2 separate regions of the Homo sapiens genome follow, and region 2 is linked to region 1. Evidence: fine-mapped QTL for protein levels in blood plasma. A gene starts in region 1. The other region holds a variant in brackets. All regions are shown on one strand. Distances are between the middles of the regions. Region 1 holds the start of NID2 (nidogen 2). Region 2 overlaps NID2 (nidogen 2).

The links. PIP is the chance, under the fine-mapping model, that this variant and not a neighbour inherited with it causes the effect. The UK Biobank Pharma Proteomics Project read protein levels with antibody pairs (Olink). The fine-mapping took linkage between variants from a reference panel, not from the people measured, so its PIPs are less certain.
Region 2: its variant is fine-mapped to the plasma level of the NID2 protein (UK Biobank, PIP above 0.99).

Annotation. Positions count from the first base shown.
Region 1 is chr14:52,066,045-52,071,419 of GRCh38, forward strand. NID2 (nidogen 2) reads right to left here and starts at 3,015. Exons shown (of 22, transcript NM_007361.4): 1 at 2,723-3,015; 2 at 1,814-2,119. The coding sequence starts at 2,950. It overlaps LOC105378180 (a long non-coding RNA gene), which reads left to right and starts at 3,192. Exons shown (of 2, transcript XR_943864.4): 1 at 3,192-5,375.
Region 2 is chr14:52,041,502-52,046,876 of GRCh38, forward strand. NID2 (nidogen 2) reads right to left here. Exons shown (of 22, transcript NM_007361.4): 6 at 1,281-1,430; 7 at 604-849. Among named protein-coding and RNA genes, the nearest start is that of NID2, 25 kb to the right of the region's middle. The variant T/C (reference allele first, on the strand shown) is at 321.

The sequences.
Region 1 (5,375 bases):
GTATTTCTAGTTTTCTTAATGAAACATTCTGAAGCCAACTAGCAAATGGTAATGTCTGCAGGTGGATTTTAATTAGAAAAGTAAAAGAGAGATGGAATTTACAAATCTCTTCTACCCTAAACCTCCCCCACCCCAGAAAAGGACCAGACAAAAGTTTTAATTCCAAAAACCTTGCATTTAAAGAGTCCTTATGCAACATAGAGAGTAACAGGATGGTTACCAGAGGCTGGGAAGGGTAGTAGGGGTCAGGGGAAGGTGGACACAGTTAACGGGTACCAAAAAAAAAAAAATAGAAGGAATGAATAAGACCTACCATTTGATAGCACAACAGGGTGACTATAACCTGTGATAACAGGTTATTATAGTCAATAATAACTTAATTGTACATTTTTAAATAACTAAGAGTGTAATTAGATTGTGTGTAATACAAAGGATAAATGCTTGGGGGGATGGATACCCCATTCTCCAAGATGTGATTATTACGTATTGCATGCCTGTACCAAAACATCCCATGTACCCCATAAATATATACACCTACTATGTACCCTCAAAAATTAAAAAATAAAGAGTCCCCATACAAAAGATATAAGTCACAGCATCCTTACAAGATAGAGATCAGTGACATGGGCAAGCAACCTCACCTCTTACAGGGGGCATGTACCATCCTTCTATAGTGAAGAAGCATTTCCGTAAGTTAAAATTGAGATGAATCATATGGTTTCAGCCCCTAGAGTATGGTATTTTAGATTCAGGTCTAATTCCATAGAAGGAAGCCCTTACTTTCTTCAGGAATGAGGCAGTTTGCCATTTACCAAGCACGCTGGCCCCACTCATATCCATTTGGAGGACTTCAAATGTTGATGACAAGACTAAAGACCAGGAGCCTGGAATTTTTTACTTTCCGCAGGTAGAGACTGTAAAGCACATTGACGGCAGACTCCTATAAACTAAGAAACTTGTAAACTGGTACCTGGAAGGCAATTAGGCAGAAGTTATCAAGAACTTTATCAAAAGTGCATCCTCTCTGACCTACCAATTGCACTTCCTGGAATGTCAACTAAGAACATGTGCAAAGATTTAGCTTTTTAAAAAGTGATTCACGCTATTATTTATAATAATGAAAAACCAGAAAAAGCCTTAATGGCCCAACACTGGTTGAGCATACTGTGGTACACCCACTATTATACAGGATAATAGCAGGATACAGTAGTATGCATCATTATAAATGATGTAGAAATACATTTATTGACATTGAAACATATTTACAATACACTATTCTGTGAAAAAAGCAAGTTATAAAACAGTATGTGCAGTGTAAACTCATCATTGTTAATAGACAGCAATAAAGATATGCAGAAGAAAAAACTCTGAAAATGTACGCAGAAAAATGTTTATCAGTGGTGGGAAAATGAGTGGTTGTTTTCTTTTTTAAAATTATCTGTATTTTCTGATTTTTTCCCCTTCAATGAACATATAATTAGAAATACTTGTATACTTAGAGATGGTTCTAAAAATAAGCAACCAAACAGTAAATTGCCTTATGTTCAAAGGGGCTCCCACATCTGCACTCCCGCTCTCATATCCGCTAAGCATTTTTTTCCTCAAGGGAGTGACCACCTGCCAGGGCCTCAGAAGATGCCTAGAGACAACGTCTTTCCTCACTCCCAAGCCACTCCAGCCCTGCTGCCTCCAAGGTCAGGTTCAGCGCAAGAGTAGGCTCAGAAACAACTCCGAGCCAGTCCCTGGGTCGCTGCCCCAGAATTTAAGCCCATCCTTCAATTTCCTCAGCAGTCAAATATCCCTGGTCACTTACCTCTCCCGAGGGCAGCGCCCCGCGCTTGACCTCCTCGTAAGCGCCTACCTGCTCCCAGGTGGCCAGGAAGGCGTGGGTGGGGGTAAAGCGCGCAGAGCGCGGGAAGCCAGCGCGCACATAGCGGGCGGCCAGGCCCAGCACTGCGGGGGAGGTGTCCTCTCGGTACAGGACTCGGCCTCTGCCGTGGCTCGTGTCGATGTCCGCCAGAAAAGGGGCGATGGCCGGGAAGTCGGTGGGGAAATCATAGTCCACATACTGCGTTTCCCTGGGGAAGTCCTGAGTGGAGATGATGCCGTTGGTGCCCACCTGGGAGAGGAGAGGGACAAAAAGGTGACAGTCGCTCAAGCCCAAGGACGCTACCCTTTCGCGCAGGGAGGGAAGGGAACTGACTTAGGCAAAAAGCCTCTCTCTCCTTCCCCACTGGCCAGGGAGTCTGGATTCAGGGAAACAAGCGCAACTTTTGCGACTGTCCCAGCTCCGCGCTGCAGTAGGTCCAGGGGCCCTAAAACTCGTTCACCTATCTTCTCACTCCCCTCACAACCCCGGAGCCCCATGTCCTCGGAGAGGAAGCCTCCAGGTCTGAAGAGGGAACACCCCAGCTCCGCAGACGGGCACAGCCTTCTCGCGGTCCTAACTGCAAAGCCCGCTGGCCGCCCTAGCAACGCCACCTTTTCTGCCTGGGACGCGTACGTGGCTGCGAACAATTCTTGCTCTCCCCTCCAGGTCATTCTTGCTCCCCTACAGCAGCGGGGCAGGCAGCGGCATCGCTCTCTGGCCGGGTACCACCGCAAGGGTGCTGGGGGGCTCCAGGAGTGGGGTCTGTTTCCTCCCCTCTGGAGGCAGGGTTTCCGTGAGACCGACCCCAGGGAAGAAGCTGCGGGAAAAGTGCCAGGAGGGGGCTGAACTTACGTAGAGGTTGCTGAATCGGGCTTCGTAGAAGTGCAGGGGATTCGCCAGCTTCACCACGGCTGAGCTTTCGTCGTCGCCTTCCTGCAGGAGCTGGTCCCCCCACGACTCCCCGTGTGGGAAGAGCTCGTCTGGGTGCAGCGCCGCGGCCCGCAACATTAGCAACGGCAGCAGCAGTAGCACTGGTAACGACGACAGCACCGGCCGCCCGGCCACCCGGTCCCCCTCCATGCTCGCTCGGCCGTGCGCTTACCCGCTGCACAACGCGTCCCGCCCCGGCCTCCAGCCCACTCTCCGCGCCGCGCCAGCCTCGAACCTGGATCTCCGCGGGCGCCTGGGCGGGGCGGGACTCCAGGCCCACCCAGCAAGCTAATTGGCTGAGGCCCTCGGCTGGGGACCAATCACCGGCTCTGAGAAAGTTCGGCAGTGGCCACCACATCTGGTTCTCGTTAACTTTTCTAAGGCAGCGGCCGCTGGAGCAGCGGGGCTGGCGGGGTAAAAGCTCCTGGCCAGGGCTGCCTGGAGCTGCCCCTTCCACTCCGCCCCCAGGGAGCTCCCGGGTCATCCTCTCATCCGGGCTGCCCCGCGGCCCCCAAGGAGCCCCACCCCCGGGACCAAATGGCCCGCAAGGTTTGGGGCAGCGGCGTTGCAGGAGATGAGCTCAGCGCAAAGGGAACCCCGCAGCGGCGAGTGCGGCTGCTGGCCTGCGCGCTGTGGCCCCAACAGGCTGGCAGGGCGCGGGCGGGTGGCGGGGTTGCGGTATGAGCTTTGCTCCCTGCCCTGGGGTCCCGGGCGCTCCTGGCTCTGGAGGCCTGGCCATCGGTCCGAAAAGCAAAGGGACATTGTCGTGGTCCCCTCGGCCGCTTCGCTCCACCCAGAGACGCCCTGAGGAGAAGCGAGCCTTTGTACGAAGGCAGAGGGCTGACTCCTAAGTTCTGTCCCCCTCCCGAAGGCCGGCCGCTAGGGAAGACTTGGCCACCCTCTGGAAGTACCTTCCCCCGGGAAAACCGCAGCAGGAAAGACCATGAAATACTACTGTGTGTGATCCGCTCCGTTTGGGGAGTAGGATGAGGCATCCCGCTTGGTTACCAGGCAGAAAGGGGCGAGTCGCGGGGATGGGAAGACCCTGATCTCTTGCCCATTGCTGCGGCCGTCGGAGATGCCCTCCCCCGCGGCCACGGAGGCGGTAACCTGAGCTGCTCCGCAGGACTGGAAACCGCACAACCTCGAAACCAGCTGCGCAGGAGAAGGGGAACCCCATCCACCATAAACATCCCCTCTGCGAAGCCTCAGGAGCTGGAGGAGATTTTATTACCATTTTTATTATCAAGAGCTTAAAATTTCCCAGACAGTCTGTTTTCTCTCCCAGGCCCCCCATGAGGTCCTTAAAAGCAAAGATATTTAAAAAGAACGAAAGAAAGAAAAAAACCAAAAAGCAAATCCTTGGAAATGCCTTAAAGGACTCTCCAGAGACACACTGCTCTTTGTAGGTGTTTATTCCTATGGGCCCACTGGACCAAACGCTAAAAAACGTGAAGACATCAGACTGTGAGACTCATAGAGCAGACACAAAATGGAAAACTGGCCCAAAGCAGTTTGCTTCCTCAGAGTGGAGAGTTGTATATTTGATGTTCCAAAAATATATTTATGCTTGCACATATATTTTCTCATTCTTTCTGGGGTCAGGTATTTTTATTTTACTGAGGATGAAATGAAAGTTCAAAGACAGATGACTTGACTTGCCCAACATCATCTGAAGTTACTCCCTGATATAAAACTACTGGCCCTCTGTAGTTTTACTTTATCTCTCGATTCAGCATAATAATAATAACTAACATTTATTTAGTGGTACTAAGCTATGAGCTTTGGGGCAAGCAAACACTGAGATGGTCTCCAATGATCCCCATTTCCTGGTGTTCATTCCCCTGTATAATCTCTGCCCTGGGAGTGTGGACTGGCCTTGTGATTTCTAACAAACATAGTGTGGCAAGAGTGATGAGAAGAAGGCTAAATAAGATTGTGGCTTCTTCCTTGTTAGTTGACTTTCCCTCTCATTGATTTTGATGAAGCAAGCTGTTATGTCGGGGAGGCCCACATAGCAAGGAACTGAGGAGGGCAGCCTCTGGCCAACAGTCAGCAAGGAACTGAATTCTGCCAACAACCATGTCAGTGAGCTTGGAAACGGATCCTTCCCCAGTTGGGTCTTGAGATGGTATCTCAGCGCTGGCTGACATTTGATTGCAGCCTTGCAAGAGACCCTGAAGCAGAGGACCCAGCTAAGCCAGGTGCAGATTCCAGACCCACCAAAACTGAGAATTATAGTTTTGGTTAGATTATAATTATAGTTTTGGTGGGATTCCAGACCAACCAAAACTGAGAATTACAGCTTCAGCTTCAGAAGCTGAAGAAGCTGTGTGTTGCTTTAAGCTATTACATTTTGGGATAATTTGTTATGCAGCAATAGACAACTGATAACAGGTAGTCGTTGTGTTAAGGAAACTAAAGCTCAGATGGGATTTTAAAAAAATCAGTTATTATCACATGGCTGGTAAGTACCAAAGCTGAGATTTGAACCCAATTCTGTCTGATCTCTAAACCTCCACTCCTAACCACTAAATTATATTGCAGCAAGGCCCTTTGGAAAGTAGCTCTAGTT
Region 2 (5,375 bases), 25 kb before region 1:
AAAAGTATCTTCTAAATCCTTGTTGTCAACGGGTGGCCTTTCCAGCAACACTGGTACCTCACCTCCTAGCTTGGTAGAAAAGCAAAATCACGGACCCCACCCCAGGCCTGCTGAACCAGAATTTACATTTTGACAAGACCTCCAAGTGATGTGTGTGCAGGTTCAAGTCTGGGGTGCACCGGCCTATACTATTATAGGTTGTGGAGCTGGGAGGAGAAGAGCACCCCTTCCCCATGAAGTAAAATCATCCCCAGGTGCCCCAAGTACCATTTTTGCATTTGACAGATCTGTGCATAATTTAAAAAGCCTGACAAATATGC[T/C]GCAACAAATTGGGGTAAGAGGACACAAATGTTCTGAATGGAATCATCCTGTTTCTCAGAACAGCTGGGAGAACATTTAGACGAAATCACTGCCTTTCAAAAATCAGTGATGTGAGGTCAAACCATTCCCAACAACCTGTGGCCAGAAAACTACACACATGTGGCTCTAGTACATTAAACAAGTGATTCCTCTGTCACTGCGTAAAGGCCTAAAGACAGTGCCCCAAGGAGCACCACTGCCAAAGCAATGCTGACTACCGGCCTTCTCAGAGGCCCTACTCACCTGCGAGGCTGAAGCCGTTCTCAGAGCCAGGTTTTTCTAAAGCAAAGAGCCAGCCAAACAGGCCTCCAATTGGTGTGAGGGGGAGGAGGGCCTGGGCTGCTGGCTGTGGGATGTGGCTGATGGCCGTGTAGGCTCTGCCATCATTGCCCACGATATACGCATGCAGGTCCACATCAGTGAAGTGCACGGGTGTATGGCCCACGTGGAGGTGGCCACTCACTTTCCCATTCACTCGGTGAGGTGCCCCTAAAAGACAGCAAATCCAGTTAGGCTTGGACGTCATCCTGGCTAGAGATGGGTGTACCCAGGTATAATTATTCCACTGACAACTTCCAAAACTCACTCTTTAGCAAGTCACTTTAATGATTTCCTAACCAACCAATTATCCATCTATGAAACAGTCCTGCCTCCAGTCTGTTTTCTCCCCTCCTCCTTCTACTCCACTACACTTTGGCTCTAATGAGCTGGCAGAAGGAAGCATTTCTGGATAATCCTCAAATTGGGAATCAGCCCAAACCAGTTCATTCCTCACACATTTATTGAGCACCTGCAAGTTGATAGCACTCTGATTTAAGTAGTGGAGATGTTTGGTCCATAAAGCAGAGCTCACAGTGGTAGCTGGAAACAGGTAAGCAGCAGGAATAGACACACAGGAGTTCCTGGCCCCAGTCAATTACCTTCAGGCAGACAGTGCTTCCCATTTCCATAAAACTTGGATTGGCAGTGGCAGCAGAAGCCAGTGGCATAGTCCGTGCAGAAGGCATGCCGGGAGCATTGTCTGTGGTTGTGTTCACAGGTTTCCTTGTTGGCAGCATTATACGTGAAGACTGAAAAATAAAACAAACTTGCCTTAAAAGGACTAAATGATTCCAATGTCACTGCTGCATCGGGGACACAACATCTGCTCCATAGAAGCAGTTTAGATCATAACAAACAGTTTTTGATGTTTAAGAGACCGGCATAACATTCAACCCAAGGGAATTAATCTGCTTTGTCTGCTGGCAAGAAGAATTGCTTACTGCTCCCGGCTGGGTCCCATTGCAGAGTTGGTGAACTAAGATGAGACTGCACCCGTGGGTTTGAGTGCAGTAAAATGAAAGCAAACCAGTAAGTACATGTTAGGTTGAACTTCATGAAACCACTATTTTTGTGGGTCAAAAAGGGCTAAATATCAGCACTTTTATATGGTTCAACCTAAACACATCCTGAGAGGAAGACATAATAGAGAAGCTAACAAATGTCTTATGTCTAACCATCCTTCTTTTAGGGAACACTGAACTTAAAAAAGATAATAGCTGGTCTCGCTACCAAGATTGTTTTGAGGGAAGGGTCTTAAAGAACACACGCACCTACCTCAAAGAAAAGGCATGGGGAGAAGGGGACAGAGGAGGGCAAAACAACAGGGATTCAAGCTATTAAAATGCCCTATGCCCTTGGCAGGGTTTAACTATGATGGGTATGGTACAAGCATGATTTCCACGCAGTAGCAGACAGCTTGGGCCCCACTCGCAGATCTTCCAAGAAATTATGGAGGACTAGGATAAATTCAGTGCTCTGGCAGCTGTTTCTTCCATTTCCTACTTATTCTGCCCATTAAAAGAAGAGGGCCATCTGTGCTGCAAAGAAATGGGGAAACTGGAGCAAATGCCATAGTTCATAAAGGAAATAGCCAAGGGGGTAGGGTGTGGCGGGGGTTGTGGATGGACAGGAGGGTGCTTTCTCCGGGGCACTAGGAAATATGCCAATCCCAAGCATGGCCACCAGGAGGCCAAGCGGCTGCACACACCTCTGCCTCCACATCCCCAGGAGGTGGAGTTGGCTGGAGACTCCAGGAGCATGCTGTTGAGCAGGGATGGCATGGAATTCTAGTGTGAGACACGGATGCTGGCATGAAGGAGGACACCCACCCTACTCTTAGGAAAAACCAAGTGGTAGTTGTGTTCCAGGTCTATCTGGAAACGAGGAGACAGGAGGGGAGGAAGAAATCCAAAGATCAATCTTTACCCAGTATTCCCAGGGAGAACAGAAAGTAAAGGAGCTAATGAGACATAGCATTATAGGTACAATGTCACCAAGATAAAGACCTCCATCAGCAAATAAAAATATAACAAAGTTAACACTTCAATCGCGCTTAACATATACAAGCTTTACATTTAACAACCTTTTTTTTTTTTTTTTTTTTTGAAACGGAGTCTCGCTCTGTCGCCCAGGCTGGAGTGCAGTGGCACGATCACAGCTCACTGCAAGCTCCACCTCCCAGGTTCACGCCATTCTCTTGCCTCAGCCTCCTGAGTAGCTGGGACTACAGGCACCCACCACCACGCCTGACTAATTTTTTGTATTTTTTAGTAGAGACAGGGTTTCACCATGTTAGCCAGGATGGTCCTGATCTCCTGACCTCGTGATCCACCTGCCTCGGCCTCCCAAAGTGCTGGGATAACAGGCGTGAGCCACCCCGCCCGGCCAACAACTCTTAATTTGCACAACAACCCTAGGTAGCAGGGACTTTTTTTTGTTGCTGTTGTTGAGACAGGGTTTTGCTCTGTCACCCAAGCTGGAGAGCAGTGGTGCCATCTCGGCTCACTGAAAGCTCGACTTCCCAGGCTCAAGTGATCCTCCTATTTCAGCCTTTTGAGTAGCCGCAGCCACAAGCATGCATCACACCTGCCTACTTTATTTTTTGGTAGGGTGGGTTGGGGGGAGGGGTCTCCCTGCGTTGCCCAGGTTGGTCTCGGTCTCGAACTCCTGGGCTCAAGTGATCTTCCCACCTAGGCCTCCCAAAATGCTGGGATTACAGGTATGAGCCACCACTCTGGCCAGGGACAATTTTTTAACCCGTTTGCAGATAAAGCTGAGGCACAGTAGACTAAAGCACCTGAAGTCGCATAGGCAGTGAGTGGCAAAGGTGGGAACCGAACCTAGGACATCTAGCTGGAGAATCTTAACTGCTACTCTCCACGACCCCTTCAATGGGATCCAAGTACGGAGATCATGAGCACTAGATTAGGGGTCACCACATGTCTGGGGTTAATCAGCACAGACTTCAAGTATAATTCGAGTCATACTTTATAAACTGGGTTTAATGGTAGAAGCAAGCAGGGAAGATTATCGAGATGACTATTACAGCATGTTGAAAAACAGCACAGGTAAGAAATGAGAGTAGCAGCAGCGGCATTAGCTTTTGAACAGTACTGGAGTGCTGCCTGCAGATCCTTGGGAAAGCAGCAAGCTGAGGGTTGGCAGGACAGACAGTGTAGGTTCAAGTGGAAAATCTGATTAGAACATAGTAGGAATGAAGTTATGACTCAAGATTTAGTATAGGGCCTTGATGACTTGGCTAAGAAATTCCAGTTTGATAAAAATAGAAAATTAGGCATGACTCAACTTTATTTAAACAAGAAAGTGACAAGCTTAACTTAAACAGAAAAGTGATATAAAACTCAAGGCAGAAAAAAAAAAAAAAAAAACCCAGGATGGATCATGGTAAAATAGATGGCTGTGAAGAAAACTGTATCACTGTCTATTAGTTTAAGAAAGGGAAAAAAACATTTAGAGTAAAAGGAAATGAATGTAACTTGGATGTGTCAAAATCTCAGGTTTCTCCAGCTCAGAAATTCACAACTAAGTGTAAGGAAGCAGCTACAGGAGGGACTCACACACTCACCAGTGTGCTCATGGCTTAAGGGCCATCAGGACTTTCTCCCAGAGCTCAAGGAATGAGGGGCTGCAGAAAGCGCCAAGCTCTAGGACTCAACCTCAGCCCTCCCTCGGGGGCTTTGTGGAAACTATGCAAACTGTCTTTCAGCTTCCTCATCTCTAAAATAAGTAGAACACCTCTTCCTCACCCCTGCATTGCCAGAAGTCGCATTTCTTCTTAATGTACTTCTGAACACCAAGTAAAAAGGCAATCTGCTATAGGTCTAAAGAACAGCCATTTGGCTGGGCCCGGCAGCTCACACCTGTAATCCCAGCACTTTGGGAGGCCGAGGCAGGCGGATCACGAGGTCAGGAGACTGAGACCATCCTGGCTAACACGGTGAAACCCCGTCTCTACTAAAAATACAAAAAATTAGCCAGGCGTGGTGGTGGGCGCCTGTAGTCCCAGCTACTCGGGAGGCTGAGGCAGGAGAATGGCGTGAATCTGGCAGGCGGAGCTTGCAGTGAGCCGAGATCGCACCACTGCACTCCAGCCTGGGCGACAGAGAGAGACTCCATCTCAAAAAAAAAAAAAAAAAAAAGCCGTTTTCATAATATTCAGATAAAAATCAATCCAAACTTTACAAGCTGTTCTGCCCACAAATTAAGGAAATAACAGGCTTGGATTGTATCTTATTTCAGTTATTTTGTGAAGCCTTATTCTGCAACCCAATTCTTATTCTGAGGCTGAATTATGAAACAAGGAGAGAGAAGATGGAGGAGAGACAGTCTAGATATGGAGAGTTAAACTAGGTGGAGTCATAGCTTTTATCTAAGTAAAAAGAGGCAGGGCGATGCAGCCAGCAACTTACAAGTGCAACTGTGCAAAGGTTTATAAATAGATTGGAAGCTGTACTACATTTTTCTATTACAGAAAAAGAAGTTATAACAATGAGCAGGCTCCCATGAAAGGCTATTATGAGACTTAAACTGTAATTACAATGGGCTAACTAGTTACTGTTAAGCTAACCTGGGAGTCTTTTTAAACAGTTTTGTGGAATATTGTATTTTTAGGATGGTACTTACTGAGCCAAGAACACACACTGTCTCTTTCAGCTTCATAACAGCCACATGAA